Regions from separate parts of the Homo sapiens genome. Here region 1 is linked to region 2. Evidence: fine-mapped expression QTL. A gene starts in region 2. The other region holds a variant in brackets. All regions are shown on one strand. Distances are from middle to middle. Region 1 overlaps CARINH (colitis associated IRF1 antisense regulator of intestinal homeostasis). Region 2 holds the start of CARINH (colitis associated IRF1 antisense regulator of intestinal homeostasis).

Region 1 (16,090 bases), 47 kb before region 2:
AATATGAACGTCTCAAAACCACAACTGCATTTCCTTTGAGAAAAGATTCGGCTGTCCTCCTCTCCAGCCTGCCTCCCTCCGCTGGATGTCTTTTGTACAATGGCTCACTACTGCAAGAGGCAAGAGCCTAGGCTACAAGAAGAGTCTGCTACAAGCTAGTCCTGGGCAGGCCTGGACAGGGAGAGGGCAGGGGCTGCTGTGCAGGCGGCCCCAGGACCTTCAAGGACCTCCAAGACTTCCGTTCACACCCAGCAGCTGCCAACCCCTGCCCAGGCCTCCCCCAACACAGCCGGAGGGCCTGTTCCTGGCCCCACTTCCTGCAGCCTTGGGAAGCCGGCTAGCTTGAGAAAGGCGTGTGGCACTCATGGAGGAAGTGGGCCGGCACTGGGGCTCTCACCATCTGCACCAGCCACACCGCTTCGGTGCAGCCTGGAGCTCAAACGGTTGGCGGTTTCAGTTTTTCACCTCCCTTTGGTGCATCTTCCAGCTTATCATTAAATAAGTAAAACTGTTGCTCCACCCCAGACAAATGTGGGAGGGAAGTTGTGTCTTCAATATTTCCCAAATAACACTCACTGCTCCCTCCCATTCATACAGCACCTTCGGGTCTGGGAGCTGTGCTCACATCTGCCATCTCATTACATCCTTGCAACCCTCGCAAAGGTAATGACTGAGCTCACACCATGTGTCAGGGACATGAATGAATTCACAGAATTCACTGTAATTGTCCCCATTTTACAGAAGAGAAAATGAGACAGAGAAATTCAGTCATTGGCTCAAGGTCATCACATAACTAGGATTTTCTCCCAGATGGCTGAGTTCCAAAGTCTGCCCTATTCTCTTCTGCTACATTGCCTCCATGGCACATACACAAGAACGAGTTCCATTTACTGATGAGAAAGTGAGGCTGAGGTGAAAGGGTGGTGTGGGGCCTGAGGTCAGCGTTGCTTCCTCAGTCCACATCTCCTCCCAGAGGATGGTCCACCAACGTCCTTCATCTGCCCTCCCCCTTTAAAAACCACTGTCAGCCCGGCACGGTGGCTCATGCCTGTAATCCCAGCACTTTGGGAGGCTGAGGTGGGTGGATCACCTGAGGTTGGGAGTTCGAGACTAGCCTGAGCAACATGGAGAAACCCCGTCTCTACTAAAAACACAAAAATTGGCTGGGTGTGATGGTGCATGCCTGCAATCCCAGCTACTCGGGAGGCTGAGGCAGGAGAATTACTTGAACCCAGGAGGCAGAGGTTGCGATGAGCCGAGATCACGCCATTGCACTCCAGCCTGGGCAACAAGAGTGAAACTCCATCTCAAAAAACAAACAAACAAACAAAAACACTGTCATGCCCCCACCGCCAGCTTGTCTCCCTTTCTTTTTAGGTGTGGCCCACAGAGCTCAGTGCCCTGCCTATCTGGAAGAGGCTGTGAAGCCCATCTATGTAGGTAACGGAGGCAAAGCAAGGGCTAGGGAGAGTGTGCCATGTGGGACACCTCCCCCTATCACCTCCCCACTGCCTGCACACACTGGGGACAGTCAAAGCATTCCTCAGGCTGGGGGTAGGAGCTGTGGGCGGAAGAGCTGGGGCATCTGTTCACAGAATCCTCCCCTGAAGTTGCTCGGAGGGGCTGGGATGCAGTCCAGACACTGGGGAGCCTGATGCAGACGCCTCCCTGGAGCACTGTCCTTCTCTTGGGCTCTTCAAGCCTGCCCTCACTCATGAACACATATTTTTTGTGTGTACTTCCTGCATGCCAGGCACTACCCAGGCACTGTGGATGCACAGTGAACAACACAGACCAGGTCCACGCGTCACAGACTTTACTTCCCTGAGGGAGGCAGACATTAGGCAAATAATCACATGGATCTCTGAAAAACATAGCTCCTACGAGAGGGTGCAACTTCAGGGGTCTTAACCTACAAAGGAGTGTGTGGGATTAGGGGGTTAGGGCAGCTGTTCTAAGGATGAGACATTTCAGGTGAGGAGAGGAATGGGGTGGAGTTGGCAGGGGGGCTGGTTCTCGGCTCTCCCCGACTGCCCTCCTTCCCCGCATTCCAGTCGCTTCAGGAAATCTGCCGCTTCCATGAGAGCTTCTTTGGTGGTGTCTTCCAAGCTGCTACCAAGCGATGGCTTTGCCAGCTGTTGCTTTCAGTGTTTGTGCCTGGGTGAGCACAGCCGGTATGAAATGGCCCAGATTAATCGAGAGCCAGGCCCCTCCTAAAGTACCTCTGAAAAGAGTTTTTCAGCATAAGCATGACATTAGCTTTTCCTAGAGAGGAAACCACCCCCGGGGCTGACAGCAAGCAGGCCAGGCTTAAAGGAAGCAAGTGCAGCGCTGGGGCCCCTCCATGCCCTGCTGCAGACAGGACACCCTCACTGCCTTCCCCCAACATGCTCCCCCACTCCCACTCCTGCTTCTTTCTCCCTGGGGGACTCTCCTTGTGGAAAAGAAACCCCAACAGTAGGGGGAGCGAGTGAAACTGGAAAATGAAACTGTGATTTCCAGTTTCATTTTCCAGTTTCAATTTAGAAGCAGCTCTGCCAGCTTTCCAGTGCCCGTGCCTCAGGGCATCACAGAGGAGCTGAGGGGCAGGAAAAAGTGTTCCAGCCAGCAAGCACCCTGCTCCCTGGGCACCCTCAGAGGGCAGGTACTGGACTGGTAGAACCCACTGAGCAGGGAGTTGTTGCAATGCCGATTCCTGGCTCTCCAGGCTCTGAGGCCGTACGTTTGGGCCCTTTGGTGATTCTGATGCAGGCTGTGGACCTCACCATGGCAGTCGTGGCCTCAGAGACCATCAGAACAGCTAGAGCACACCTGAGGCACGGCCTCATCCTCTCCAAGTCACTTCCTGCCACAGATGCTCGGGAAGTGCTGCTTCTCTGTGCAGCATCTCCTGCCCTCCTCCATCTGGTGTTGGAGGCATCTTAGATGTTCTCTGGGACCTGAGGTCTGTAGGAAACCCCGGCTGTGGACTTCACACAAGGGTCGCTCTTTCCCACACTCCAGGTTTCCCTTTAAGCTGCTAATTTGTAACAGGCATTCATAGAAACAGAATAAGATAGAGAAATTCTATTAAAGGACCTTATGTGCTTTTGCTCTGTCTGTTGCTCCATTTATTTGCAATTTATAGCCTAATCCAAGAGGATTTAAGGACAATTAAATATTTCTTTCCCCTCAGTGTGTGTGTGCGAGTGCACGTGTAAGAGTGTGTAGGGGTTGGGTCTTCCAATGTACCTTTGCCCTGGTTTGACCGTGGGGGGAGAGGGTGGGCAGGTCTCCAGGCCTGCCAGATGTAGACCTTTCCTAATGTCTACAGCAAATTTGTTCTTCAGTGTTTCTAGTATCAGTTTTTGATCAATCATTAATCAAAGTTGCAATAAAAAGATAATCTTCTCAGGACTAGGCTATAAAGGTCCTGGCTGCAACCTTAAAAAACCCTTCTGTGGAGGCCTCAGAGCCAAGAGAAAAGGGCGATGTGTCTGTGGCTGGATTTGGAGGTAAATGAACGTGCTGTCCCTCTCTAATTGGTGTGCACGAACATGAACTTCAGTCACTTGCGTGGCTATGGCCTCTTTCTTCATCTCTCCCTGCCAGTGAAGCTGGTGGTGCCCTGGCTCCCAAGCCAGGTGGCAAAGCTGGGGAAGGAGGCTGTAGTTGGGCCCAAATATGGGGGTCTGGGGGCACCTCCACAGGTTGTGACCACTGCAGCATGCTCTGGGGCCAGGCCTATGGCAGTGGAGGCAGGACAGCCCCCAGGACCACAGAGCCCCCATAGTGGAGGGAGCCACTACTTGGGCGGCTCAGCTCATTCCTGCTGACTTGCTGCTGTACAGGGCAGAGGGGTGCCTGAGACAAAGAGGAGACACACTTCTCCCACGAGAAATAAAGCAAGCAGCTGTTCCTCTCTTGGGCCCAGCAGGGGTCAGAGGCTGTGGGACCTTCACTCCTTCCCTCTCAGTGGAGAGGGCAGATCTGCTCTTTGGGGTGTGAGGGCACAGCCTCCTGACAAGCTGGAGAAGCAGGATTTAAGAGCTAGAATCAACGGAGAATGTGAGGCCCAGCATCAGGTTCAAGAAGCAAGGGGATCAAGGTTGGGGGGGAGGCAGGGAGCCTGAGCCTGGCGCAGCCCAGACCAACAGACTGAGGAGTCCAGAGAGCCAACATGCTCACTCGGCCATCGCTAAGATGTGTAGTGTGTGAGAAGGTGTGAGAGGTACTCGCGTTTCTCTCTCCAACCCCTTCCAACATATTATTGGGTCGTGGGTGCCATGTTTTTAGTAGACACATAAAATAAATGAGTATTTTCAGAGAAGTGCAACCCTGGAGGTGCAGGGGAGTGAACTCAGCCATGAGAAATCATTCAAAGGATTGACCTATGGAACAGGGATAGACTTGCTCTCCATGGCTCCAGCAGGGAAGCAGCAGAGAGGGGAACCTTTCCTGAAAGTCCAGTGTGACATCTGAAGACACACACACACACACACACACACTTTTTTGAGAGAGAGAACGAGAATGAAAAGATACACACTGATCTTTCAACAGTCGTTGTCTCTACCTGGTGATTGCGAATGATTTTAATTTTTTTCCTCTTGTGCTTACAGTATTTTCTAAAATCTCTAAAATACACCCAAATTACTTTCTTGTTATGGCAAAATAGACATAAAATGTCTACATCCATTTTAACCATTTTTAAGTGCAGAGTTCCATAGTATGAAGTACATTCTCACTGTTGTGCAGCCATCACCACCATCCATCTCCAGAACTTTTTCATCACCCTCAACATAAACTCTGCATCCACTAAGCAGTATCTCCCTGTTCTTCCTCCTTCCAGCCCCTGGCAACCATCCTTCTACTTTCTGTCTCTATGAATTTCACTATTCTAGGTACCTCATATAAGTGGGATCATCTGGTATTTTTCCTTCTGTGTCTGGCTTATTTCACTTAGCATAATGTTTTTAAGGTTCATCTATGTTATAACATGTACCAGAATTTCATTCCTTTTTAAAGCTGAATTATGTTCCATTGTACATATTCACCATATTTTGTTTATCCACTCCTCTTGTCATGGACATCTGGGTTGTTTCCACCTTTTGGCTATTGTGAATAATACTGCTACAAACACTGGTGTACAAATATCACTTTGAGTCCCTGCTTTCAATTCTTTTGGGTATATTCCTAGAAGTGGAACTGCGGGATCATATGATAACTAAGTTTTTGAGGAACCACCACATTGTTTTCAACAAAGGCTGCATGATTTTACGTTCCCAATAGCAATGCACAAGGGTATCTATTTCTTCACATCCTTGCCAACACTTATTTTCAGGTTGTTTTTGTTGTTTTAAAATAGCCATCCTAACAGATGTGAAGTGGTATCTTACTTATTATGGTTTTCATTTGCATTTCCCTAATCTAAATTACGTTTTAAAATCCAATCCTCTCTGAATTGAACCCTTTGTTCTTTATTTCTCAATAAAATGGACCTTGCCCCCTTTTTTTCCTTCTTTGTACCTATGCTCTGCATTTTAAAAAATTGTGGCAAAATACATATAACTTAAAACTTTACCATCTTAACCATTTTCAAGTGTAGAGTTCAGTATTAAGTATATTCACATTGTTGTGCCCTAACCCAAATATAGTATATAATGGCAAAAAGAAACAAAAGGCTCTCTAAAGAAAAAGAAAGC[C/T]GTGAATTCTTGGACCCCAGAGATGTTCACAAACAGATTGGATCAATCTCAGCAGGGACTTTCATTCATCTTCTGAGCATCTCTGCTGGGCTGGGCTCTGTGCCAGGCAGGGGTCTCCGTGGTGAGTGTGGCCTGGACTCTGCCCTTGGGGTTCAGCCTCTGTGGGGAACAGTTATACCCAAGGGCTGCTGTGGGCACAGAGGGACACCCTGTTGTGTGGGTGCGGCATTGGGAAGGGGCATAAGTGAGGTGGCACATGAGTTCAGGTGGGAAGGATGAGCAGACATGTACATGTGCAGAGAAGGGAACTGGCGTGTGTGGCTGGGCTGTGGCAGCACACCTCACAACCACCATTACAGGAGCATCTATTAATCATTTATGTCTGTCTCTCTACTTGATTATAAGCTGCATGAGAGCAGGGCTGATGGTTTTGTTCACTGCTGCATTGCTGCCATGCCCAGCACAGGCAAGTGTAAAAGAAACACTTGCTGAATAAATGAGTGGTTGATGACGAGGAAAAAGGAGACATTTCTTTCCAGAATCTTGGCTGTAAGCAGCAGACAGCATGGCTGTACTCCACGGGGAAGGCAGGATGGCAGGAAGCATTATACAGGTGATGGAGACAGGAGCACAGCAGGAGCCAGTGGAGAAGAAGAGTTTGAAGATTCCCTGGTTGAGAGAATGGAAGGGCGTAATTGCTGGGGAGAGGTCCCTGAAGAAAGGGGAGAGGCTGGGATGCAGGCTCAGTGGAAGGAGAGGAGTCTCCTTATGAGACTCAGATGGCCAGTGTGAAAAAGACAGAAGATACCAACTGCTGGTAAGAATGGGAAGCACACTGCATGGGGAACTCTCCTACACTGCTGGAGGCGTGTTCTTCCTGTTATTCTAGATTCAGACAGCACTCTGGTCGCTGGTTGGTGCAGGCCACCATTTGGGCCAATTAGAGGAACCCCAATATCTGCACTTGGACTATCAGAAATGAGAGCTCTACGCCCAGAGCAATTTCCAAGATGGGCCTGAATCCATGAGTCATGGCACTACATGGAGCCCAGGGTTGGCTCTGAGCCTAACAGCCTCCAAAATGTCAACTTTGTTCACGTGCCACTTTGTCCCTCATCTCATGCCATGCAGCTGGCAGGACTTCAGTTGACAGAAGGTAGACCCTGCTCTTTTCAAAAAGCACACAGGACAGGTGCTGATAGGCCAGCCCCTCCCACTGAGCTCTAGTTACTGCGGTGAACTTCACCAGGAGGTTCAGCGCCCACTGTGGCTCTGCCTGAGGGGCCTCTGTGCACACTCAGTCCAGGCACTAGCATCCCAGCGCCTGGCCAGTGGTCCAACTCCAGACTCACTACACAGAGCCCCTTGCAACCGATGTGTGCCAACATGGAGCCCACACAGGGCAGCTCAGCGTGACACCTGCACAGCTCAAGACTGAGGGAAGGAAATGCATCTTCTTTCTCAAGTTGGAAGAGGCTGTACTGAATTACCAAATGGCATTATACTCTCTGTGGGGGAGCACAGATGAGTGTCCGGCAGTCCCTGGGATGATGTTACAGTCCAGAGGTGGGGATGAGATGAGCCCAGATGATGCAATGGGGATGCAATCAAGACACGATGTCATTAGAAGCCACAGTGTGTTCTCTCATGCCACGTGTTTCCCAGCTTAGAGGAGTAAGGGGTCGGGGGGGGGAGTGGCCCCCTGGGACCCTGCTCTAGGACGCATGCATAAGGACCCACATGCAAACGCACAGAATTCAAGAGCTAGCCAGGCCTGGACCCATGTAGGAGAGCCCCACTGGCTGATTTCCAATCTGGGACAAAGGCCACAGACAGGAGGCCTCCCTTGGCCACACCCAGGTCCCCAGAACATATGCTCCACTGTCCCCAGTCTAACCACAACCCCATATGAGCTGTGTCCCATTCATGTTGGCCTAGAAACTGGGAAGTACCTGGCATGGGGCCCTCCGCTTCCTCCCCATGACTGCCTGGAGCTCTGGGGAGACCACCAAGGGGCCATTTTTGTGGTTAGGAAATGTCTGTGGCAGCTGTGGACACCACAGGCCCTCCCTGGACCCTTCTGAAGTAGAGGTCACATTCCTAAAGATTCTTAACTGCCAGCTCCAATTGCTTCTTCCTGACAGGCTCATCTTAGTAGGGAGTGAATATAATCTTTTCCCAGTTCCACGAGGTCCTCTCAGATCCAAAATGCTCTAAGTTCAAAGGCAAATCATGAAGAAAGGGAGACGCAGATACTAATTTGTGGTTTTAGTTCAGTGGTTTTCCACCTTGGCTACACAGTAGAGTTACCTAAGGAGCTTTTTAAAAATACTCATGTCCAAATATTCCAACAGGCACTTTGCAAAGAGAAGATCTAAATGGCTAACAAACATATGAAAGGTTGCTCAGCTGTATTAGTCATCAGGGAAATGCAAATTCAAACCACACTGTGATACCACTACATACCTGCCAGAATGGCTAACATGAAAAAGATAGAAAATATCTATGGTTGGCAAAAATGTGAAGCAACCAGAACTCTCATACATTGCTGGAGGGAGTGTAAATGGGTACAGCCACCTGGGAACATTATTTGGCATAAGGTACTAAAGCTGAACATACTCATACCCATGCTTCCCCAGCAATGGATATACATGTACTCCAAAAATACACACTAGCATGTCATTGCAATAGTCAGAATAGTTCCGAATTATAAATAACAACTCGAATATCCAAAAATGCATCACAGTAGAATGGATAAATCGAGGAATATCCATAGAGTGGAATACTCTATAGCAAGAAGAGTGAATAAACTGCAGCTCTAAGTAACAACTTGGATGAATCATCTCACAAACACAACAAGAGGATATATACTGCCTGATTCCATTTACATCATATAAAGTTTGAAAACAGGAGAAATGACTGTACACCATTAGAAGCCAGAATGGACATTAGCCTTTGGAGCCAGGTAGTAAGTGGAAGGGGTACCAGGGGTTGCTGGTGATGTTCTGTTTCATGATTTGGATGCTGGTTACTCGGGGTAAATTCATTTTGTGAAAATTCACTGAGCTTTACACTTATGGTTTGTGCTTTTTTTTTTTTTTTTGCATGTATGTCATCCTTCAACAAACACTTAAAAAATGTTTGAAAACCCCATCAATTCAGTCAGACTCTTTGGGTGGGAGCAAGATCCAGGCATCAGTATTTTTTAATATCCCAGATGATGGTAATATGCAGCCAGGATTTAAAGTCACTGGTTTAATATCTTGGGAAAAGCAGATCCACTCAAGACCTCACAGGGTCCTGACAAAGGCCACTTCCAGCTCAGTGGAGTGAGACACTGGGGTGGGAAGATGTCCATTTTTTGGATGTGGGTCAGTCTCTTGCACAGGCAGAGGTATTGCAGCATGCTGTTGTAATGTGTATCTTCCTTGGCAGTGTCTGTTGAAAGCTGGTTGCATCAGTTTGTAATGGGGTGTAATGGCAACAAGGTGGGCCCAGCCCCCCCCAGGAAGTGGATCACTGAGCACAGCTTCTACAGGGCCATTTGTAGAGAGGTGGCAGCTGGGCTTCCCAGGGGCTGCCACCCAGGGCAGAGCCAGTGCTGAGGCTCTGACAACCTCGGCAGGGTGGGGAGAAGGCCAGACTCAGGGTGTTTATGTTTGTGGGTAATGACAGTCAGCTCTGGGCTCCAGATGATGCTTACTCCCTGGCCTCTGTGTTCAGATTAGGAACTTGCAACATCTTGCTGAGGACCATGTCAGGCTCAGCTCTAAGTGCTGTGGCTGAGAATTTTCCTTCCTCTCTGTGTGGTTAGTGGCAGCCTCCCTAGCAATGGCTGACCTCTAGCATACTCTGTCAAACTACAGGCAGCTGGGACAAGACAGGACATGGGGCTCACAGACAGGTATTCCACAACCTGGGCCCTGTCAACCCTCCCAGAAATGCATGGGCCATGAACCTCCTGCTGTGGGAGGGGCAGTGCAGAGAAGTCTCAATAAGCTTCTCTTGGCCCTCTGGGATCTCCACCATCCACAGTGTGTAGGGCTGAGCTGCAGGCTGGGTCTTCAGGTGGTGTCCCTGCACATCTGCTTTGCAGCGTGGCGTCTATAGAGCAAGAGTGAACAGGAAGGGGCCTCGGGCCTCCTGTAGCTCTGCTGGGCAGGGACGCTGCGGGGCCTCAGCTGGGCTTCCTTGGCTAAAGGGCACAGAGTGGCGTAGGCTGCAAGAGGACAAGCTAAGCTGATGAAGGCTCTATCACTCAAGGGTAGCCATGTAAAAAAAAATCCCTACAGGTAAAAGAAGCATGAATAAGACAGGCGGGGCATAACAGTGTCTCCCCACTGAAGCTGCAACTCTCTGCTTCACTGGCTTCAGCCTCCTCTCTGTGAAATGGGGGCAATGTCCCCTAGGCCTTTTCCTCCTGTCCAGTAGGGCTGAGGGTCTACAGGCCAGAGGGAGGCCTGGGCTCTGAGGCCTGTGCCTGTGTGGCCTCTGGCTGGGACCTCAGCCCCCATGTGCCACGTCACCTCCCTTGTCTGTGAAATACCACAACAGCAGCTCTTGCCAGCCAGTGACACTACCCCTTCCTGTTGTCTTCTTTACAAAGCATTTATGAAATGCTTCCTTTTCATGCTTCAGGAAACCGGTGGCCAGGAGGAGTTCTTGATTTCATTTTCTTCCCTAGAGATATGTGTGCTTCGAAATACACAAATTAAACAAAAACGAGGGCTGACTGGGACCAGGAGAGTGAGTGATCCTGGCTTCCCTTGATTTACATGCTTATTTTCCTTCTCAAATCACTCCAGTAAGTACAGAAGTCACTAATCTATTGCCCTCTATTATCTGCATTATAGTTAAAAACATCGACATGAACAAACAAAAGCCCTTGCGTAGCCTAGAGAAGTCACAAAGCTCACACCCAGACTCTCGCCTAAGAGAGTCTCTCAGGGCTCACTCAGGGACTATTTATTCTTGTTTTATTTTTTTAAATGTTGATACCCTCTCTGCTTGAGTATCCTTGTTTTAGATGCAAATCAGAAAAGGTTGCTGTATTGATCACAGTCCCAGCAGGAAACAGATGCACACTCCACTGGTAACAGGAGAGACTGAGGAAAGGACCGTTTCCAAGGGTGAGCAAGATGAAGAGAAACCCTCAAGGAAAGGTGAAGCATCCTGCAGCCAGCAACAGTGGGAGCTGTGACCACCAATCCCCAGGGAGGAGGTGGGAGGGCTCCTGGAACCCAGAGAGACCAGTAGGAGGGGACTGCCGGCAGGAGCTGTGGTTTTAGGGTGAAAAACACAGGCACTATTGACCTGAGACCTGGCAAGGGAGGGAGCTGGGGGGATAAAGCACCTCCCATTTCCCCTCCCAGCCTCCAACCTCTGGTCAGGGGAGGGGTCTTCAATTGGCCAAACCCAACTGGAAGCTTGGGGACCTGGAGCCTGGCTGATGGAATCCACAAAGGTCAAATCCTGGGAGGAGTGGGAAAGAGCAGAAAATCAACTGGAGCAGGGATGTGTGGGGGGGTGGCAAACAAACAATGCCCGGCAGAGTCACCGGGGCTGGCCATTTGAAAAGAGTACATCAGAAGCTAACGTGCTGTAATGTGGCACTCTCACCACAAATACATAGGATGAAAGGCAGCCAGGGACAGAGGCGGCCACGAAGAAAGGTTTAAAGAATCCCAGCAAAATGACTGGGGTCCTCATTATGGAAGAACAAATAGCTTTACTTAATAATTCCAAGGTAATAGCTTAATAGCTTAATAATTCCAAGGTAAACAAGTATTTTCATAAGGAGGACTCTGAATGATCAACAGAAGGTTAAATGTCACTGTACTGCTTCACAGAGCTGTTACAGGGCAGGGAAGACTATAACACAATGTAGAGATAGATCCATACAAGAGAGGTACAACAGGGTTTCCAGTTCAACACATCAGTTATTTACACTCCTAGTTTCCTTTCTCTCCTGAAGCACCACTAAAATGCTAGTCTAGAAATCAAATGGGGCCAGGTGCAGTGGCTCACGCCTATAATTCCAGCACTTTGGTAGGCCAAGGCAGGAGGATCATTAGAGTCCAGAAGTTCAAGACCAGCCTGGGCAACATAGCAAGACCCTGTCTTAAAAAAAAAATTGGCTGGGTGTGGTGGTGTGTACCTGGAGTCTCAGCTACTCAGGAGGCTGAGGTGGGAGGATCACTTGAGCCCAGGAGTTTGAGGCTGCAGTGAGCTATGGTCACACCACTGTACTCCAGTCTGGGCGATGAAGTGATACCCTGTCTCTTAAAAAAATCAAATGGGGCCAGGCGCGGTGGCTCATGCCTGTAATCCCAGCACTTTAGGAGGATGAGGAGGGTGGATTACTTGAGATCAGAAGTTCGAGACCAGCTTGGCCAACATGGTGAAACCCCGACTCTACTAAAAATACGAAAAGTAGTCAGGCATGGTGGCACATGCCTGTAGTCCCAGGTACTCGGGAGGCTGAGATATGAGAATTGCTTGAACCCAGGAGGCAGAGGTTGCAATGAGCCAAGATTGTGCCACTGCACTCCAGCTTGGGTGACAAGGCGAGACTCTGTCTCAAACAACCAACCAACCAAATGGTATTAACTCTCAAAGGCAAAGAGAATGGTAAAGGAGACATGAGTGGCTGAAAGAGTTCCCCAAACTACAGGAAGCTGGGAGGCAGGTGGAGGAATAATGACTGACATGGAGGAAGCTAGGCTCTGAAGGGCTTGCAGAGGGGCACACTGACAGGAGGCAAGCCACTTTACCCCTGGAACCCTGCAGGAGGAGCTCAGACTTGGGGAGTCCAGGTGTTGTGGCTGGTGGGGCTGAGGTACAGCAGCCTGTGGGGGTAATGAATGGAGGAAACTGGTTGAAATCCTCCCCAGGTCTCACCTCCACACCCTGCCCCACACAGCTGGAGACAAAGACACTGAACAGGAGAGAGACAGGCAGGAGGGAGGGCAGATGAATACAGGGATGAAAACAGGGAGGTGAGGGAAAAGTCTGAAGAATGAAGCGTGGGACTCAATGTCCCACCCACTTACCTTGCCCTGCCCCACCCCAGGTATATATCACTCTGGATGAGGGTATGGTGAATTTAAAAGATGGTTGCAAATTCTTTGACATTTCTCCAATGGAGAGGTGGGTCTGTGTCTCCTTCCTTGAACCTGTGTGGATTTCTGACTACAGTGGAAATGAGCTATGTGACTTCCAAGGCTGGGACATACACAGCCATGCAGCTTCTGTCTTGCTGGCCAGAACACTCACACCAGAGACTTGAGGTGCCTCGTAAGAGGTCCAATGACCAGGCCATGGTGCTGGAGACATCATGTGTAGTCTCTCTGGTCAACAGTCCCAGCTGAGCCCAGCCTTCCAGCTCTCTTTGCCAAGTGAACAACGATCTTACAAGTGGACCCTTCAGCCCCAGCTGTTCCAACTCCCAGTTATTCCAGTCACCTCGAGTCATTCCAGTCATCCTAGCCGTCGTAGAGCAGAGAATTGCCCTTCTGACTCCTTGACAGTGGCCCAAAAAATGGTTGTTGTTTTATGCTACTAAGTTTTGAGGTGGTTTGTTATGTAGCGTTCAATAACTAGAACTAGGAGTTAGAATGCTTCTCTTGAGGAGCTGAATGGCTTCAGGGTGGTGGTTCTCAACAGGGTGATTTTGTCCCCCAGGGGACATTTGGCAATGTTTACAGACATTTTGGTTATCACAACTCTGGGAGGGGGGTTACTACTGGCATTTAGTAGGCAGAAGTCACTGGTGCTGCTAAACATTCTACAATGCATGAGACAGCCTCTGACAACAAGGAATTCTTTGGCCCAACATGTCACTAGTACCAAGGTTAAGAAACCTAGCTCTAGAGAAAAGGTGCTCATTGGAGGCTTGTTAACTAAAAGACTGTCTTGCTTCCTGTAGTGAAACCCCAGTTGATAAATTCTCCCCAAGCAGAGTTTAGTTCAGCCTTTTATTGCTCCATTAATAAATACCAACAGATAGCTGAGATATTTGGCATTTAAGGAAAGCCTCCAACAAGGAGAGATGGAGAGACAGAGAGAGGGAGAAGAAAAAGAAAGCAGAAGGAAAAAGGAAGAAGGAAGAAAGAAGAGGGAAGAAGAAGAAGAACAAGAGGAAGAGGAGGAGGAAGAAGAAGAAGAAGAAGGAGGATGACGACAACGACAACAACAACAACAACAAGAAGCAGCCACCACCGCCGCTGCCACCTCCAGGTAGAAACAAAAACAAAATAGAGACTAGAAGACTATTAAGACAAATGGACAAATGAAAAATAAATAGTGCCTCAAGAAGAATAGGATGGAGATAGTATATGCATAAAAAAGAATGTGGTATTTTTGAAAAAGAACAGGAAGAACAAGAATGAGTACTAGGATATTAGAAAAAGAAAGCCAAAATTAAAAAAAAAATCAACAGAAGGGTTGGAGTATGAAGTCAATGAAGGTTTCCCAAGAAAGTAGACCAAAAAGGCAAAGAGATGAAAAGTAGGAGAGAAAATATAAGGAAACTAAAACATTAATCCAGATGATCCAACAGATAAAATACAGGGAAGAAAATTATTAAATAAATAATACAAGAAAATCTTCCAGGACTCAAAGATGCTACATAACTCAGCAGTGACGAATATGTCCACATTCACTATTGAGTTAACCACAGATTGTGTTATGTTCCTATTGGAAGGATGGAGAGAGGAAAAGTGGGGATGGTTCTGTAGGAAAGTTCAATCCTCATCTATCACAAGAAGTCAACAAATGCCTAAAATCGGTAGATCAAAAAATAGTATAAACAGAAATGGAAACTAGTAAATGGTTGAAAGAGGCAGCCTATAGAGAGGGGGAGTGAGAAAGGCGGGGAAGGGATTTTTATTATGGGCTTCTCAGTACAACTGATATTTAAACCATATGCATGCATTATTTTTTATTTTGTTTTTAATGGATACATAATAATTGTAGATATTTATGCAGTGCAGTGTGATGTTTCCAGACATACATATAGCATGACATGATCAAATCAGGGTAATTAGCATATCTATCACCTTAAACACTTGTCATTTCTTTGTGGTGACAACATTCAAAATCATCTCTTCCAGCTATTTTGAATTTGTGCATTATTTTGATAAATTTGATAGAATAGAAATTAATTTAAAAGGGTACAATTTTAAAACTGCAATGTGATGGGATCAAATTTAATAATTTGGAAAATTCGCTTATGTAGAAGAGTCATGCCTCTCTAAGAATGCTCAATGAACTGGCATAGGTGGGCACAAGCACCATCAGCATGGAAGGGTTCCTCCTGATGTCACTGGCCACTAAGGCAGTTGGTGGGGTGAGGGTGGGGATGAGAGCCAGGCATGGCAGCCCTTAGGTGGTCACCATTTCCCTCTCCTGGCAGCCTGTATTTGCTTGGGAGACCTATCTCTTGGGTATAGATCCTATTGGGCTGCTAAAGAAGAGAGGTGCTAATCCTTTTAGGATGACTTCTGGGAATTCACCAGGATGCCCTGCCTCTCCTACTCTGGACATGGAAAAAAATGCTGGGTTTACCAAAGGTGGATGAGTCAGGCCCAGGACTAGAGCCACGGGGCCTCTCCCTGGACGTGCCATAGTCAGGCTGTCTCGGCCGCTAAAAGAGGCTACACACATTTATTGTCATCAGAAGCTGGGACAGATGAGCCTTGGGTTACAAGATCTCCTACCTGGAGCTCTCCCGGGAGGTGCCAATCATAGGGGATGGGAGGACAAACACATGCTTGGTGGGGCTCTAGCGTTACCGCCGAGGTGCATCTCCTTGGCCACTAGCCCTGGGGTCTGACCTCCCCTTCTCTTTTCCTTCACCCATTGTTCTCTCTATTCCCTTTCTTTCCCACCTCTCTCTCAGTTCTCCAGAGCTCTGTGCAGGGACTACTTAGCAAACTTACCTGCTGAAATGCACTGTTTTTTTTTTAACCTTTTAAATTGTCACTTTTTTTTAAACTATACCATCCTTAGATAAGCAGGAGATATTCCTTGTAGAAAAATAAGAAAATATTAATAATCACCCATGATTCTATCAGTCAGAAAACTCCACTGCTGGTGTATGAATTTCCAGAATGTTTCCAGGCTTATAAACGGGTAAAAATACTATCACAGTCCATGTCTCATCTAAGCACCCAGCTACTGAGCAATCATCACCTACTGGGCTGTGCTGAGGCCTTTAGATGTGTTAATCTCTCTTAATCCTTCCAACTTCACAAGATAGGTGTTATTGTGCCCCGTTTACAGGCAGGAAACAAGTTCAGGGAGATCACATTACTTGCCTGAGTTCCCAAGTTGGTTAAGAGACTAAGCTAGATCTCAACCCTTCAGGCTGAATCCAAAGCTACTTTCCTTGAATGGTTTGTAAGATT
Region 2 (16,090 bases):
GCCCCTCCTATATCCTCAGGCCGCTGGAAGACCTGGATGCCCGTCGTGGGACAAGAGCCAGAAGCACTCACCCAGTGCCAACACCTGCTGGGCCACAAACAGTTTCTGCTTGGGATCCCAACACAGGCAGCAGAGTCAGCAAAAACTCTAAGATATCAAGAAGTCAAGCATTTCTTAACAACAGCAGCAAACTCTTACACAGGGCTGTGGTTACCAGACACTGCTCTAAATAACTTACACTTGTTTACTTATTTCATCCTCACAACAACGGGTAAATATTTTAGGTCTCTGCCAATTTGCCTGATTACTGAATTAGGTTGAATCATTAAAATGAATAACTTGATAATACCCAATTTCAAAGAGGGGTCACATATGAAAACTCTATGAGAGATTCTCAGCATCTTGCAGACATTCATTCCCTAAATATTCATTGAGTGTTTGTTATGGACGAGACACTGTTCTAGGACCTGGGAAGAGAGGAGCGAACACACAAGACAAAGTCCCTGTTCTCACGAAGCTTCTGTTCCAGTGCGGGGAGGCAACAGTAGAAAAGGAGACAAATGCCATGCAGAAGAAAAAGCAGGGAAAAAGAGATAGAGCACAATGACAATGCTGTTAATACCCATTCATTTATTCACTTATTTCCAAGGACTTACTAACCATGTCATTTCTTGCCCACAGCTGCATGCCAGGCACTATGCCAGATAAAATTGTGGGTAAGAAATAGACATGGTCTCTGCCTGTATGGAGTACTTACATAAGAGGAACATCTATTATTAGTCAAATAATCACCTAAATAAATGCAAAGATGTTAATCTGTGATAGGTGTGATAGCAGAATTGCATGTAGTCCTTGTGAGAGCATCTCAAGGAGGCCTGACCTTGTCTAAGGGGAGGCCTGAAATGGAGTGTGGGGAGGAGCAATGTGTTAGTCCATTTTGCATTGCTATAAAGGAATATCTGAGGCTGGGTAATTTATAAAGAAAAGAGGTTTAAGGCGGGGTGCAGTGGCTCACACCTGTAATCCCAGTACTTTGGGAGGCTGAGGCAGGTGGATCATCTGAGGTCAGGAGTTCGGGACCAACCTGGCCAACATGGTGAAACCCTGTCGCTACTAAAAACACAAAAATTAGCTGGGTGTGGTGGTGCACGCCTGTAATCCCAGCTACTTGGGAGGCTGAGGCAGAAGAATTGCTTGAACTGGAGAGGCTGAGGTTGCAGTGAGCCAAGATCGTGCCACCGCACTCCAGCCTGGGTGACAGAGCGAGAATCCGTCTCAAAAAAAGAAAAAGAAAAGAAAAGAGGTTTGGCTCACAGTTCTGTAGACTGTACAAGTGTGGCACCAGCATCTGCTTGGCTTCTGGTCAGGCCTCAGGATGCTCACAATCATGGTGAAAGGTAAAGGGGGAGCTGGCATGTCACATGGCACAAGAAGGAGCAAGAAAGGGGAGGAGGTGCCAAGCCTCCTTTAAACAACCAGCTCTCGCCTGAACAGAGTAAGAACTCACTCATTACCTCGGGGAGGGCACCAAACCATTCATGAGGGATCCAGCCCCATGACCCAAACACCTCCCACCAGGCCCCACCTCCAATGCTGGCGATCACATTTCAACATGAGATTTGGAAGAGACATGCATCCAAACCATATCAAGCAGTGTCCCTGTCAAAAGCACACCCTGTGCACAGGCTGGATCATGGGTAGTTGGCAGGGACAGGAGGCAGGGTGAAGCTGGAGAAGCAGTGTAGGTGACCCTTGCATGACACTCCCAGCCACAAGAGGAGTTCGAGCCTTAACCCTGGAGAACTGGAGCACCACACAAGGGTCTTAGGCAGAGGATTAATGCATTTAGATGTGTACTTTTAAAAGATTATCTATGTAGGCTGAGTAATGGCCCTGCCAAAGATGTCTATGTGTGAATCCCTGGAGGTTGTGTGTATGTTCCCCTATATGGCATAAGGGACATTGCAAATGTGATCGAGTTAAGGGTCCTGAGAACCGGAGATTATCCAGGTGGGCCCAACATAATCACAAGTGTCCTTATAAGAGGGAGGCAGGGGGAGATCTGACTTCAGATGAGGAGCCTCAGAATGATGTGGCACGAGAAAGACTTGGCTTCGAAGAGGAGGAAGGGGCCCTGAGCCAGGGAATGCAGTGGCCTCTAGAAGCTGGAAAAAGCAACAAAACGATTCTCCTCTAGAGCCTCCAGAAGGAACGCAGCCCTGCCAAAGCCTTAATTTCAGGACTTCTAAAAGAGTAAATTTGTGTTGTTTTAAGGCACTGATTTTGTGGTAATTTGTTACAGCAGCAATAGGAGAATAGGACATACTAGCTCCTGTAAAAAACCAGACTGGACGTAAGGGCGAGGCGAGGCAGGGACCAGCTAGAGGTCACTGCTGTGGTCCAGGCAAGAGGTGTGAGAGCTTGCACCACAGTGGTGGCCGTGGGGATGGAGAGGAGTGGTGCAGTTGAAGGACCCCAGCAGGGGAAGAGCTGACCAGTCAAAGGTCTCGCTGCAATCTGGCAGATGTTACTGGAATGCCACAACAGGCCTCTTTCAGGCTCAGGCCCTGGCTGGCTCACCCTGGCTACAGCCCAGCAGCTTTACAGAAGGAGGAAGCTCACACCAGGGCTGTAGACCACTCCCAGGCAGATGCACCATTTACTCACTTAACCTGCCAACCCCATTCCCACAAAAAAGTTCAAGAGTCTCCAGGAACAAGCCCTAAGAAAGAACACGTGGGGAATTTTTACTAGGCAAAAGGTAGCAATTATTTCTGCCAAGCATTAAGCCTTGCAGCGAACTTTTTTTTTTTTTTTCCGTGAACAGAGATTTTGTAATTCTGGAAGAGAGGTGTCCAGATTTAAATATACACATCTCCAACACAGGTGATACAGAACCATGATTAAATCTAACATCTAAAAACTTCATGGTCAGCAGAAAATGCAGAAATTAAAGAAAGACTAAACAAGAAACTAGGAGACTCAGCGTCTACTCTATTCTTGCTTAATAATCCAGACCTACTTAAAAAATGGGATCCTAATTTGGTCCTGTTTAATGGAGCTGTCAAGAAGAAAAAGCAATAAAAATTATTCGAGAGAATTTTAGAAACATTCTCCCATTCTACTCCAAAAATATAAATATGCACACTCCAAAACCAAGTACCTTGGACTGTACTGAGAGATGACAATGACGTCTTAACCGTACTATTTCCCCATGATGTTGCAGCAGGCCACAGGGACCTAACTGAATTGTAAGAACATGAAAGGACCCAGGAATGCCTGCAGATGACAAAATACCAGGTAGTCCTGTCAGTGTAGGAGCATGTTAATTTAAAAATAGATATATTTTTCTGGTGACAAAAGTGACATGTCTATTACTGGAAAACACAAACAACTCCTGTAGTCCAATGATCCAGAGATAACCCATTTGGAAATATTTTCTTCCAGTCTTTTTTCCCCATTGATTTCGGCACAGGCGCGCGCACACACACACACACACACACACACACACTCATACTTCATTTTTAACAAAATTACAATACTGTATATACTTTTATAACCAGTTTTATATAACAGTATATAATCCTCCATGTATTAAATACAGTTTTTCATAATGCTAGTATTCCATCATATGAAAGTAGGAAAATCACTTAACCAATCCCTAATTGCTGAACAACTGAGTAGTTTCTAACTTTATGGTAACATAAGTCATTGGGAGGAACCTCCTCATCTACGGGAATATCCCTAGATATAAATCTATGTCTATAGCTCTGATTATTTCCTTAGGGTCCTATTTCCTACATCCATGCATTGCCATTACTATTTTGCTATAATTAATTACCATCTGTAATGTACTTAACATTTCTCTTTACATCAACTCATTTCTGTCCTTAAACAAATGTATTTTAAAAGCAAACCTGACTCGGTGTAGTGGCTCACACCTGTAATCCTAGCACTTTGGGAAAACAAGGCAGGCGGATTGCCTGAGCTCAAGAGTTCAAGACCAGCCTGGGCAACATGGCGAAACCCCGTCTGTACTAAAAATACAAAAAATCAGCCGGGTGTGGTGGTGCGTGCCTGTAGTCCCAGCTACTCAAGAGGCTGAGGCACAAGAATCGCTTGAACCTATGAAGCAGAAGTTGCAGTGAGCCAAGATCATGCCACTGCACTCTAGCCTGGACAACAGGACAAGACTCTGTCTCAAAAAACAAACAAACAAACAAACAAACCTTATTTAAGTGGAAAACCAACATCATATGCCATAAATGAAGGCAATCATAATAGGTTTTATTGGAATAAAAAAACACTGTGGTTAAAATATAGTCAAAATACTGCTACCCCTTTGCCCATTCTTTTATATAAAATGGGAGATTAGAGAGGCTTAGAGAGGTGTTAAAGGTATGCTAGCACCAAGCTAAAGTTTTTCACCTTCCGTTGATCAGAAGACTGAAAAGGAATTGAGCATGGGAATAACTTTCTCACTGTGAGTCAGTGTTAGACAATGTGGCAAATGTGTCCCAACTAGAATTACCCTGCGCCACCTGAAATAACCTCATATGAAAACATGCCTTAGGACATATTCCTGGAAGTAGAACTGGGATAAAAGGCATGGACACTTTAAGCAGCTTCTGATAACCACAGCCCAAACACCATCCAAGTTAGTTTTACCACAGTTTTACTATGACTGTGTCCATTTTACTTCACGTTCACAAATATTAAGTACTATAAACAAAATATTAAAATAGTTAAAACGTTTCAGCTTTTTGATGTAAAATATCCAGCAGCTGAATCTTCAAAGGCTATTTTCATGCTCTTCTAGCTAGTCCCTGACCCTAGGGCAGGGCTATTTTATGAACCTTTAATTAGTGGTAAGCTTACAACAAACTGATACTGCACTTGGTTTCACCAAGCTGAAGTAAACTCTGTAAAAGATGAGGAAGTGACTTTAGCATTTGCAAATATTTCAGAATGCCTTTGTGCCAGCAAAGGTCAAACAACGATCAGAATTGCATGGATTCCAAAGTATACTTTTGGGAAATAAGAGACTCAGAGAAGCATTACTCAAGATACAATTCACTATGAATTTTCAGCAATTCAATGAAAAGTCTAAAAGAAATACATGTTTAAACTTTCCTATCCTGGTATAATATGCAATTGCACAAATAGGTTAGATTGTAGATTAATGCAATTGTTAATATTTCTAACATAGAAAAAGGAAATTGTATTTTGAAGCAAGAAGAATTAATAACAATTGGAATTGTTCAGGTTATTTTAATAATTCCCAGGCAGATACCTATGTGTATATGTGCCTGTGGGGAAAAGGTAAGGAAAAAGAGACGTGAGAAAACATACTTATGTAATTCCAGCACTTTGGGAGGCTGAGGCGGGTGGATCACTAGGTCAAGAGATTGAGACCATCCTGGCCAACATGGTGAAACCCCGTCTCTGCTAAAAATACAAAAATTAGCTGGGCATGGTGGGACCTGTAGTCCCAGCTACTCGGGAGGCTGAGACAGGTGAAGTGCTTGAGCCCGGGAGGTGGAGGTTGCAGAGAGCTGAGATTGTACCACTGCACTCCAGCCTGGGTGACAGAGCGAGACTCCATCTCAAAAACAAAAACAAAAACAAAAAATAAAAAAAAAGATTTATTATGTTTGGAAGGAGGTTATAGGTTCTGATTAATTTTTGCCAGAGACAAAAATACAAGTTTATCTAAGCTTAAGAACTAAATGATGGCCTATTGTAAGATATAGAACTTCCAACTCACTGAATAAAAAGAAGGAAAGAAGAAACAGGGGACAAATACACTTTGATGAATCCATAGAGTCACAAGGAAAAAAAAAACACACATGATAAATACATGGCAAAACAAGATGGCAAAAATAAGACCACATTTATCAGTGATCAAAATAAATATGAATGAATTAAATTCCATTGTTAAAAGACCAAGACTTTCACCCTAAATGCCCATAAATGGAAAATGGATAAATTATGGTATGTATTCCATTTTAATGGATGTGTATGTGTGTGTATGTATGTGTATGTGTGTGTATACACCACAGAAAGAGGCCCATGAGTTTCAGTTTAGAAAGATGTAGAAATATATTTGTATAAGCATAGGAAAGGGTCCAGAAAAACACACCAATATGATATCTGTGGTTGCCTATAAAGAGCAGTTTACCTATGAGTTTCAGTTTAGAAAGTTGTAGAAAAATATTTGTATAAGCATAGGAAAGGGTCCAGAAAAACACACCAATATGATATCTGTGGTTGCCTATGGAGGCTGAAGTGGACTTTCCTGTCTCACTTTACAAATGTCTATACTGTTTGAATTTATTACAAAAGCATATGACTAAAGAAACATGAAAAAATGGAATAATAAACATAAGGGCAGAATCAGCAAAATAGAGGACATAGAGGACCAAAAAAAAGGTGGTTAACAAAACTTGAAGTATTTATTTGAAAGTAGACAAACCTCTAGTGAGACTGATCAAGAATAACTGACAGAAGATTTTTTAAAAATGAGATTACAGAAAAAGGAAGAAATGACAAATAAAACAGACATTTTAAAACTTATAAAGGAATAATATAAACACATGATAATACATTTGAAAATACAGATGAAATGAATAATTTCTAGACAATAAAAATTGCCAAATTTGGCACAAAAATGTGAATAACCACTTAAGAGACTCAAATAATTTTGAAACCTCTTCCCCATAGAGTTTCAGACCCAGAAGATTTTACAAGTGCCTCCTACTAACTTCCAAGGAGCAGAAAATCTCTATCTTAATGGAGTTGCTTTAGAAAATAGAAAAAAAGAGAAAACATTGCCCAATTTGTTACTTGATTTTGAAATGTTAAATATGGACTGTACAAATAAAGAAAAATACAGGATAGTTTCACTTATAAACATAGATGTTAAACTCCTAAATAAAATATTATCTAATCAAATACGAAAGTGTATTACAAATACATCATGATAAAGTAATTCACCACATTAGTCGATTGTGGAAGAGGTTACTAGTGCTCACCAGTCTCTCGTTCTTTTCCTCCTGGGAACACCACCAGGCTACATTTCCCAGCCACCTTACAATTAGGTGAGACCCATGAGACTAGTCCATGCCAATGGAATGTGAATGGAAGTGCATCTAATTTTCTGGCTCATGAAAACAGCAGCATTTTCTCTATTTTCTTTTTTTCTTTCTTTGTTTTTTTTAGACGGAGTTTAGCTCTTGTTGCCGAGGCTGGAGTGCAGTGGCGCGATCTTGGCTCACTGCAACCTCCGCCTCCCGGGTTCAAGCAATTCTCCTACCTCAGCCTCCCAAGTAGCTGGGATTACAGGCATGTGCCACAATGCCTGGCTAATTTTGTATTTTTAGTAGAGACGGGGTTTCTCCATGTTTGTCAGGCTGGTCTCAAACTCCCGACCTCAGGTAATCAGCCCGCCTCGGCCTCCTGAAGTGCTGGGATTACAGGCGTGAGCCACCGTGCCCGGCAAGAGCAGCATTTTCTAAAAGCAATCAGTACTCAACACCATCCTGCTGAGGTAGGGCAGCGGCGGACTCCATGTTTTGAAACTTAGGAACTTAGACCATCTTTTGTCAAATTCAGATGGTTTTCTCAAAGTAAAGATCATTCAAGTTTTGTTTCAGTAATGGGCCGTATGATCAGATCTGTGTGATTAGGCTGAATTCATTATTATTGAGACAAAAATTGAGTTAAAGGGGATTCTTGGTATTGGCCTGCAAAACCTGTCATAACTTAAATGTAAAGTTTCTGATGATTTAGTCACTTTACTCTCAGCTCTTAGCTCTTTCACTCACCTGTCCTTGTTCTACACAACCTGCCTGATGGGTAACTTGAATACATATTTTCTCTCTTCAGGGGATGGGAACGCCCTAAGGGCAGGGGCTGTTTCCACAGCCCTGGGGTGGAACCCCCTTCCTGCATACCAAGAATGAGTTGGCTATACTTGACGAAGGGCAAAGACAAGGTGGCACGCATCTTTCATGCTTCTGCTGGCAGATGCAGTGGACTGGAAATTTCCTGGTCTGGGAAGGACTCGGTCTGTGAGTGCACCTATCCCTGACATCTATGCTAGCCCCGGGATGGGGGCCCCAGCAGAGTAAGGCCCTGACTTCACATGGACAGGGCCAGGGCAAGGGGGCCACATCCTGGCCTAGTTGCTCTCCATGCCCGTGATCAAGGGAGATGAGCTGCCAGCTTGCTCGGTCAAGGAACACTTGGAAGGCACTCCAAGTGCCCCCAGGTGCACCAGATCTAGGAAACTTAAGCAAACTACATGAGGTATGGGGTGGGGCCCAGTGGGAAAAATGAGTCTGACAGGTCAGAGGGAGTAGATTATGAGCTCAGGTTAGGCATTCTGTTCAGCATTTTACGTACACCCTCCCACTTTTGATTTTTACCAACACCCAGGGAGGTCGGTGCTCTACAAAAGGGAAAGGCGTGCTCAGGTGGCCCGACTTGCCACGGTTCCAGCTCGACCCCGGGCTGCTAGCCCCTTGGCACGCTTGTCTGAGGCCTCCCAGGTCTTCCAGCCTGGCCTGGAGGCTCAAAGCCACGAAACCCAAGGGTGCCGCTTCTCAGGCCCTCCCCGCCCCCACGGCAGAACCCCTGACCCTGCCCGGGTCAAACGCCTGGCGTCGGGCCCGCCGGGTCCGCAAGGAGGAGCCCGCGAGGCGGCCGCGAAGGGGCTGTGCTTACCTCGCCCGGCGCGGGTTGCGGCCCCAGGGCCCGCGCTCCAGGCTGGCGGCCGCTGCATTCTGCGCCCCTCGCCTGAAACGGCAGCTGCGCCAGTCCTGGCCACGACCGCTTTCATTTTCCTCAACGACATCGGCAGGAAAGCGAAAGCGAAACCCTCCGGGAGGCGGGACCGGGGCCGAGCGCGCAGTGAACGCGGGGCGCGCGGCGGGCGCGGGCCGGCAGCCAGAGGCGGGGGCCCCGGGCTCGGGTCTGCGCGTGGCCTGGCCCGGTGGCGTTCGGGGTGGAGCTGGGCCAGCCGAGTGCCCGAGAGCTAGTCCGCCACGCACACCTGCCTCGGCGGGACCCGGGCCCGGGCTGGGCGGGAGGCTGGGCAGGCCCGCCGTAAGTGGAAAGGCGCCCGCGGCGCTTCGGCCGACCGGGACAGGTTCCTCCATCTGCCCTTCATTCAGCGTTTACTTGGGCCTGTGGCTGGCAGCCGGCCCGGGACCTGACCGCTGGCGGCGCCTCGGGCTCTGGCCTGAGGAGGCAGATGGCAGCCTGAGCAACTGGGACCAAGCCTCTGAGGAGTCCCCGTTGGAGGGGACTTGACCATGAGGTACCAGGCATCTCATCTGGGGTCAGCGGAGAACCCAAAAGTCAATGACGTCGGTGAAATGGGGGTCCCTTCATCCGATAAGAGAAACTGGAACAGCAAGCCTATGGTTTGGACTCCCTGGTCTAAGCGGTGCCCATCAATATCTAAACATTTAGAGATTCCAGGTTTCAGTGTCTGGCCGTCTCTTACTGTCAGTGATTTGGGGCAAAATATTCAAGTAGTTAGACTTAATTACTTCCCCTGTGGGATGGGAATAATAATAATCATACCTACTGCCAGAATTTTAGGAATGAACAATAGAAGGAAGAAAATACTTAAAATTTTCTGACAGCCTCTAAGTGGGTTCCTTGAGGGCAGCAACCAAGTCATTTACCTGGATGCTTGATAGACATTCTCTAATGGCCAGTCCATCAACTTGGAGCTATCTCCATGATAACAGGTTAGTTGTCAAAGTTTGGACAATATTATCTGGAGTTTAAAGACTGAGGAAGCCCTGCAATTTTTTTTGGAAGGTGTCTGAAACTTAGCCTGACAATTAGCCCCCACAATTATGCCACGGAACCAGGTTTTTGTTAGAGTGGAGCATGGCCACAACGTTTGATGGACATTCCTACAGCGGTGTTCAGCGCTGGCCACTGAGGTCTGAAAATACTTTTGCAAGCATTTCTATTCACTTGCTTTTAGAAAACATTGGTAAGACACCATACTCCAAACACAGTTTGCCCTGTCTGTACGTTTGTTGCAAAGCAAACATAAAAGTTTTTGCCATAGAGCAAACACAGAGCAGTCTGTTATAACTGGAACAAGAAACCAAAATGAGCTATTAAATCTGCCCAGAGTCACTTTGGTTTACCTGTTTGTAATTTGGGCACATTCCCTGCAAGATGGAGGCCCTGGTCTGTGACTGATGTAGGGGCTTGTATGTGTCCTTGCAATAGTTCCCTCAAGAGCAGGTGGGAAAGTGGGGCAGGCCAAATGATGACCTTAGAAAAACAACAGCCTGTTTCTCTGTCCAGAAGATGCTACTTTTAGTCTGTAGTATGAAGGAAAAAGAAAAAACAAAAAAGGCAAGCCTTGGAGCCTCTTCCTCCTTATAGGACAATTCTTGACTCCAAGATAGCAAAGTAGAGTTAAATCTGCTTCTGCATAAAAACTATGTTTGGGAAGATGAAGATCAGGAAAAGACAGGAAGAGATGTAAGCAGATAAGCCAAATCCTGGTTACCTTTTATAGACATCACACATGTGAACAGAGAGCATCAGGAGGTCAAGGCCGGCCTGATGTTTTTCATCTTGGCAACTTCCCAAGGTCCAGGTTTGGTCCTTGACTTTGTGGGGCCAAAAATCTCATCTGACTTCCAGTGTACCAGAGTCGATTAGCACTGTTGCATAAAGTCAGAATGACAACTGACTGATTTCATTCACTATTTGCTAGAGAAGTGCTATGCTAAATGCATTACATGCATTATTACCTCATTATTTCTCCCTACTATCATGTGGTATATTATAATCTATTTATTTTTCATTTGGGAGAAAAAAAGATGAAGGAAATCCCAAGGTCACATAGTTACTATGTATGTTAGTGGCAGGGTTTGAATCAAGGCCATCTGACCCCAAAACCTGAAGCTTATCCATTCCTGTTAGAAGCAAGACTGTCGGGAACACTGGACTCGAGGCCACCTGATGAACACATTCTCTTCTTGTAGCCATGCAGTTTGGAGCCCCATAGTCAGAAGGTGGCTTAGTGAGCCTAAAATCAGAATCGGAAGAGTGAATTGTCTGACTTAAATGTTTGATGATATCAGGCTCGGGCAATGTGGGATGTCTCTTTCCACAACACAGGTCAAAACCTATAGGAAGTACTGTTCACTCATCCCTGCTGGCCTGGCCAGCCCTTCTCCCTAGATGGGGCCTGGTGGACACCATCTGTTTGTGTCGATGAGGCTCTCTGTATTATGGTACCCAGGCCGCCTCTCCTCAGATGGACATTTTTAGATAGAGCAAGGCGTTACTGAGTAACATTACTCAGTAAGGTCTCTCAGCCCTTATTTTTCTTTATGGAGACATTTTGTATCTTTGCTCTGATTGGCTTGATTTATAATTTAACTTCTAAAGGACAGCTTTCTATCCCACCTTTTGGAGACAGCTCTGTTTTCCTTACTATCCTTCCTGATCTAACCCTGGAACAAAAGTTTGTGCAGTAGCAAGTTCTGCAACAAGAACTTTATCCAGGCCTGCACTGATAGTCAGTAAAGACACAAAAGAAGCAAAAGTCCAAGTCCAAGGCCAGTCCCAAAAGACTTTACTACAGAATCGGGCAATGGAGGGTTGGGGGGCGGGGCACAGCTGATGATCACGCAACCCAGCTGAAGAATGATATAAATGGAATGAAAGCATGGTGCAAGCAGCATCTAACTTAGGAGTCACTGGTTAGGAAAAAAAAATACCTGATGTGTGATTCAGATAAAAATGAAAAAAATAACCCTTTTAGATATTTCATTCAACAAATATTCTGTGGCAACTACAAAATGCAGCCACCCTGCTAATGCTGGGGATTCAGTGATGAGCAAAAATAAATGTGGTCTCTGCCCTCGGGAAACACACTTGAGTGAGGTAATAAAGCAATCAAATAATTGGTCAAATATAGAATGCCATCCTAAATACTACAAGATGCATTTGACGCTATAAGAGGGAATGCCAGAGGCAAAACTCCTCTAATGGGCCACCTGTACTCTGGGGCTTCCTGTCAGTCTGGCCAGCACTTTCTCAGAATGGCTCTGCAGTCTGAGGCTCTTCCTATCTACTCCTCCATCCTTCCCTCTTCTCTTTCACAGGGGTCAGACCTGCATTACGGTGTGGGGCTCTCTCTGCTTACTCTTGCTTCTGCTCCTCTTTATTCTTCATAGGCATTTTCCCCAATAAACTCTTCCAGGTTTAATTCCATCTTGGTGTCTGCTCTAGGAGGACCCAAGCTGACACAATGATGCCCTTCATTGACTTGGAGAACCTTGGAAGAGGCCCAAGTTTTGGAGGGCTCCAATTCTGCACATGTTGGCTTAGGTGTCAGGTGGGCAAGGAAGCTCCATATCTGCTTTCCCACTCAGAAGATAATGCTTGTGCTTTGGTACTAAGCTATCAACCATGTCCTCTGTGGGAGCTAGGGTCTGGTCTTGTTTTTAAAATGCTTGTTCCATGGATAATCAGCAATTCTCAGTTTAGATCTCAATACTAGAACTATTTCCCTCTAGAAAAGCACAACCTACCAATAGCAAAAAACATCCCTTAACTTCCTTGAGGAGGAGTTAAAAGTCAAAAAATCGAAAGGAGATGAGCAATTGTTCCTGAACAGCCAAAGGGAAATAATTTTGATGTAGGGGGGCCCTTAGTTTTCTGGGAAAAGGAAGTCTTTTTTTTTTTTTTTGAGATGGAGTTTTGCTCTTGTTCCCCAGGCTGGAATGTGATGGTGTGGTCTTGGCTCACTACAATCTCTGCCTCCCAGGTTCAAGTGATTCTTCTACCTCAGCCTCCCAAGTAGCTGGGATTACAGGCACCCGCCACCACACCTGGCTAATTTTTGTATTTTTAGTAGAGACGGGGTTTCCTTATGTTGGCCAAGCTGGTGGCGAACTCCAGACCTCAGGTGATCCACCCACCTCAGCCTCCCAAAGTGCTGGGATTACAGGTGTGAGTCACTGCACCCGGCCTGGAAGTCATCTTTTATAAGTGTTCCTTAAGGAAAGAACTTACATGTTTGGCAGCACAGATGGAAATCTGTCATTGTTGGTAGAAAGAAGCTAGCACTCCAAAAGGCACTTTTGCTCTGAGCTTAGCCTCCCTGAGCAAGGTGCCCTTGGAGAGCTGGGTGTCAAAGGATGACCCTGTCACTGAGGTTCAGTCACCAGCAACCTGTTCTGAGTGAATCATCTGTTTGAAGGCAGAGCTCTTCAGGTCCACCGCTGGTTCTTCCCATGGAAGGAGGCTTGAACACAAATCATGAGTACTACATGAATATTTGAACGTGGCACTCAGTCATAGTCAAGTATAGCATTTCCCTCACCAACTGCACACCCCAGGGAGCCCATATCCATCTCATGGTGGTGTGGAGGCTGACAGTAGGCGAGTTTACATGCTTTGTTCCCAAGCTGTCAGGAAGCCCAGATACTATTAGTCTGCTTGGTCTAAAAAGAGAAAGAAGTAGGTGTGGGCTTCATGAAGGATGTTTTGCTGAGGGCTGTGTCTCTCATTCAAGGATGAATGAGTAAAAGCATTTGTTAAGTTTTTTTTTTTTAAAACTACCAAATGTACAGTGAGTGTACTACTTAAGCACCTTAGGGATAAGCCTGTCTTTTCCGCCAAAGGTAGTTACAATTTCCCTCATGGAACCAAGCATAATATGATAAGGACTAATTATTTGTAGAGTCAATAATTACATTATAATTTACATGCATGATCTAATTTAATCTTTATAGAAACCTGATATAGGTAAGGAATTTTACAGTTGAGGAAACAGTCTCAGGAAAGTTAAGTGACTTCCCCAAAGTTATAGAGCTAGTAAGTGAAGACATCTACTTTTGGACCATATACTTTATCTACTCTGGATCTGGGCACTTAGCCAAAGCCATAGTGCCTCCAAGAAAGAGGGTGTCATGGGGTAAACCTTGAACATGAATAGAATTGGGATAATCAGAGATGAAGCAGGACAACGTATGGATGGAGGCAGGAGTGTCAAGGAGAAATAGAGAGCTAAAAGTGTGTCATATCAGGAGTTGAAATGCATTAAAAATATGTGAAGTTTGGACCCTTTTATCGTAATATAATGACCTTCTTTGTCTTGTTAAAATCTATTTGTCTGATATTAATACAGCCATTCAAACTCTCTTTTGGTTATTTGTATGGAAGATCTTTCCAACCTTTTAATTTTCAACCTATTTGTGTCTTTGAATCTAAATTGAAACTGTTGTAGACATCATAATAGTTGCATCATGATTTTAAAATCTATTTGGTGAATCTCTGCCTTTTAATTGAAGAGTTACATTTAATATAATTACTGAAAAGGGCTTACTCCTGCCATTTTGCTATTTGTTTTCTATGTCTTTTATCTTTTTTGCTCCTCAATTCCTTCATTACTGCTTTCTTTTGTGTTAAATCCATATTTTCTAGGATAATTCTAAATCTGTATCTTTTTAAAGTATATATTATTTATTTATTTTCTTAATAATTGCCCTAGAGATTACAGTTCATATATTAATTTGTAACAACCTGGTTTAGATTAATACCAAGTTAATTTCAATAATATGCAAACACTTTGTTCTTATTCAGCTCTACTCCCTTTATATTATATTTCCACAAATTACATCTTTACACATTGTATGCCCATCAACCTAAATTTTTAATTATTGCTTTATGCAGTTGTCTTTTAAAATTATGTAGGAAAAGAGAGGTTAGGAAAAAAATTAATACTGCCCTTTATATTTACTTAGGTATCTACCTCTCCCCATGTTCATTATTCCTTCATGCAGATTCAAGTATTCAAGTTACTGGCCAGTGTCCTTTCATTTTAGCCTGAAAGACTCCCTTTAGCATTTTTTTTTTTTTTGAGATGGAGTCTCCTTGTTCTGTTGTCCAGGCTGGAGTGCAGTGGCACAATCTCAGCTCACTGCAACCTCTGCCTCCCAAGTTCCAGTGATTCTCATGCCTCAGCCTCCCAAGTAGCTGGGATTACAGACATGTGCCACCAGCCTGGCTAATTTTTGTATTTTTAGTAGAGGCAGAGTTTCACCATATTGACCAGGCTGGTCTCAAACTCCAAACCTCAGGTGATCTGCCCACCTTGGCCTCCCAAAGTGCTGGGATTACAGGCATGAGCCACTGTGCCTGGCCCTTTAGCATATTTTTTTAAGTACTTTAAGTTCTAGGGTACATGTATACAATGTGCAGGTTTGTTACATAGGTATACATGTGCCATGTTGGTTTGCTGCACCCATCAACTTGTCATTTACATTAGATATTTCTCCTAATGCTACCCCTCCCTCAGCCTCCCACCCCCTGACAGGCCCTGGTGTGTAATGTTCCCTGCCCTGTATCCATGTGTTCTCATTGTTCAATTCCCACCTATGAGTGAGACCATGTGGTGTTTGGTTTTCTGTCGTTGTGAGAGTTTGCTGAGAATGATGGTTTCCAGCCTATCCATGTCCCTGCAAAGGACATGAACTCATCCTTTTTTATGGCTGCATAGTATTCCATGGTGTATATGTGCCACATTTTCTTAATCCAGTCTATCATTGATGAACAACTGGGTTGCTTCCAAGTCTTTGCTATTGTGAATAGTGCCACAATAAACATACGTGTGCATGTGTCTTTATAGTAGCATGATTTATAATCCTTTGGGTATATACCCAGTAATGGGATGGCTGGGTCAAATGGTATTTCTAGTTCTAGATCCTTGAGGAATCGCCACACTGTCTTCCACAATGGTTGAACTAATTTACACTCCCACCAACAGTGTAAAAGCTTTCCTATTTCTCCACATCCTCTGCAGCATCTGTTGTTTCCTGACTTTTTAATAATCGCCATTCTAACTGGCGTGAGATATCTCATTGTAATTTTGAATTGCATTTCTCTGATGAGCAGTGATGATGAGCATTTTTTCATGTGTCTATTGGTTGCATAAATGTCTTCTTTTGAGAAGTGTCTGTTCATATACTTTGCCCCTGTTTGTTTTTTTCTTGTAAAATTGTTTAAGTTCTTTGTAGATTCTAGATATTAGCCC

The links.
Region 1: its variant is fine-mapped to the expression of CARINH in whole blood (TOPMed, PIP above 0.99).

The regions. Positions count from the first base shown.
Region 1 is chr5:132,450,822-132,466,911 of GRCh38, reverse strand. All of the region lies in intron 3 of CARINH (colitis associated IRF1 antisense regulator of intestinal homeostasis), which reads right to left. Among named protein-coding and RNA genes, the nearest start is that of IRF1, 32 kb to the left of the region's middle. RefSeq lists enhancers at 31-410, 1,972-2,936, 9,002-9,231, 9,159-9,828, 9,829-10,499 and 4 more and a silencer at 10,778-10,970. The variant C/T (reference allele first, on the strand shown) is at 5,682.
Region 2 is chr5:132,403,679-132,419,768 of GRCh38, reverse strand. It overlaps CARINH (colitis associated IRF1 antisense regulator of intestinal homeostasis), which reads right to left and starts at 8,840. Exons shown (of 4, transcript NR_161242.1): 1 at 8,728-8,840. It also overlaps a transcript of LINC02863 not described here. RefSeq lists silencers at 3,951-4,139, 8,542-8,831, 8,902-9,201 and an enhancer at 9,442-9,491.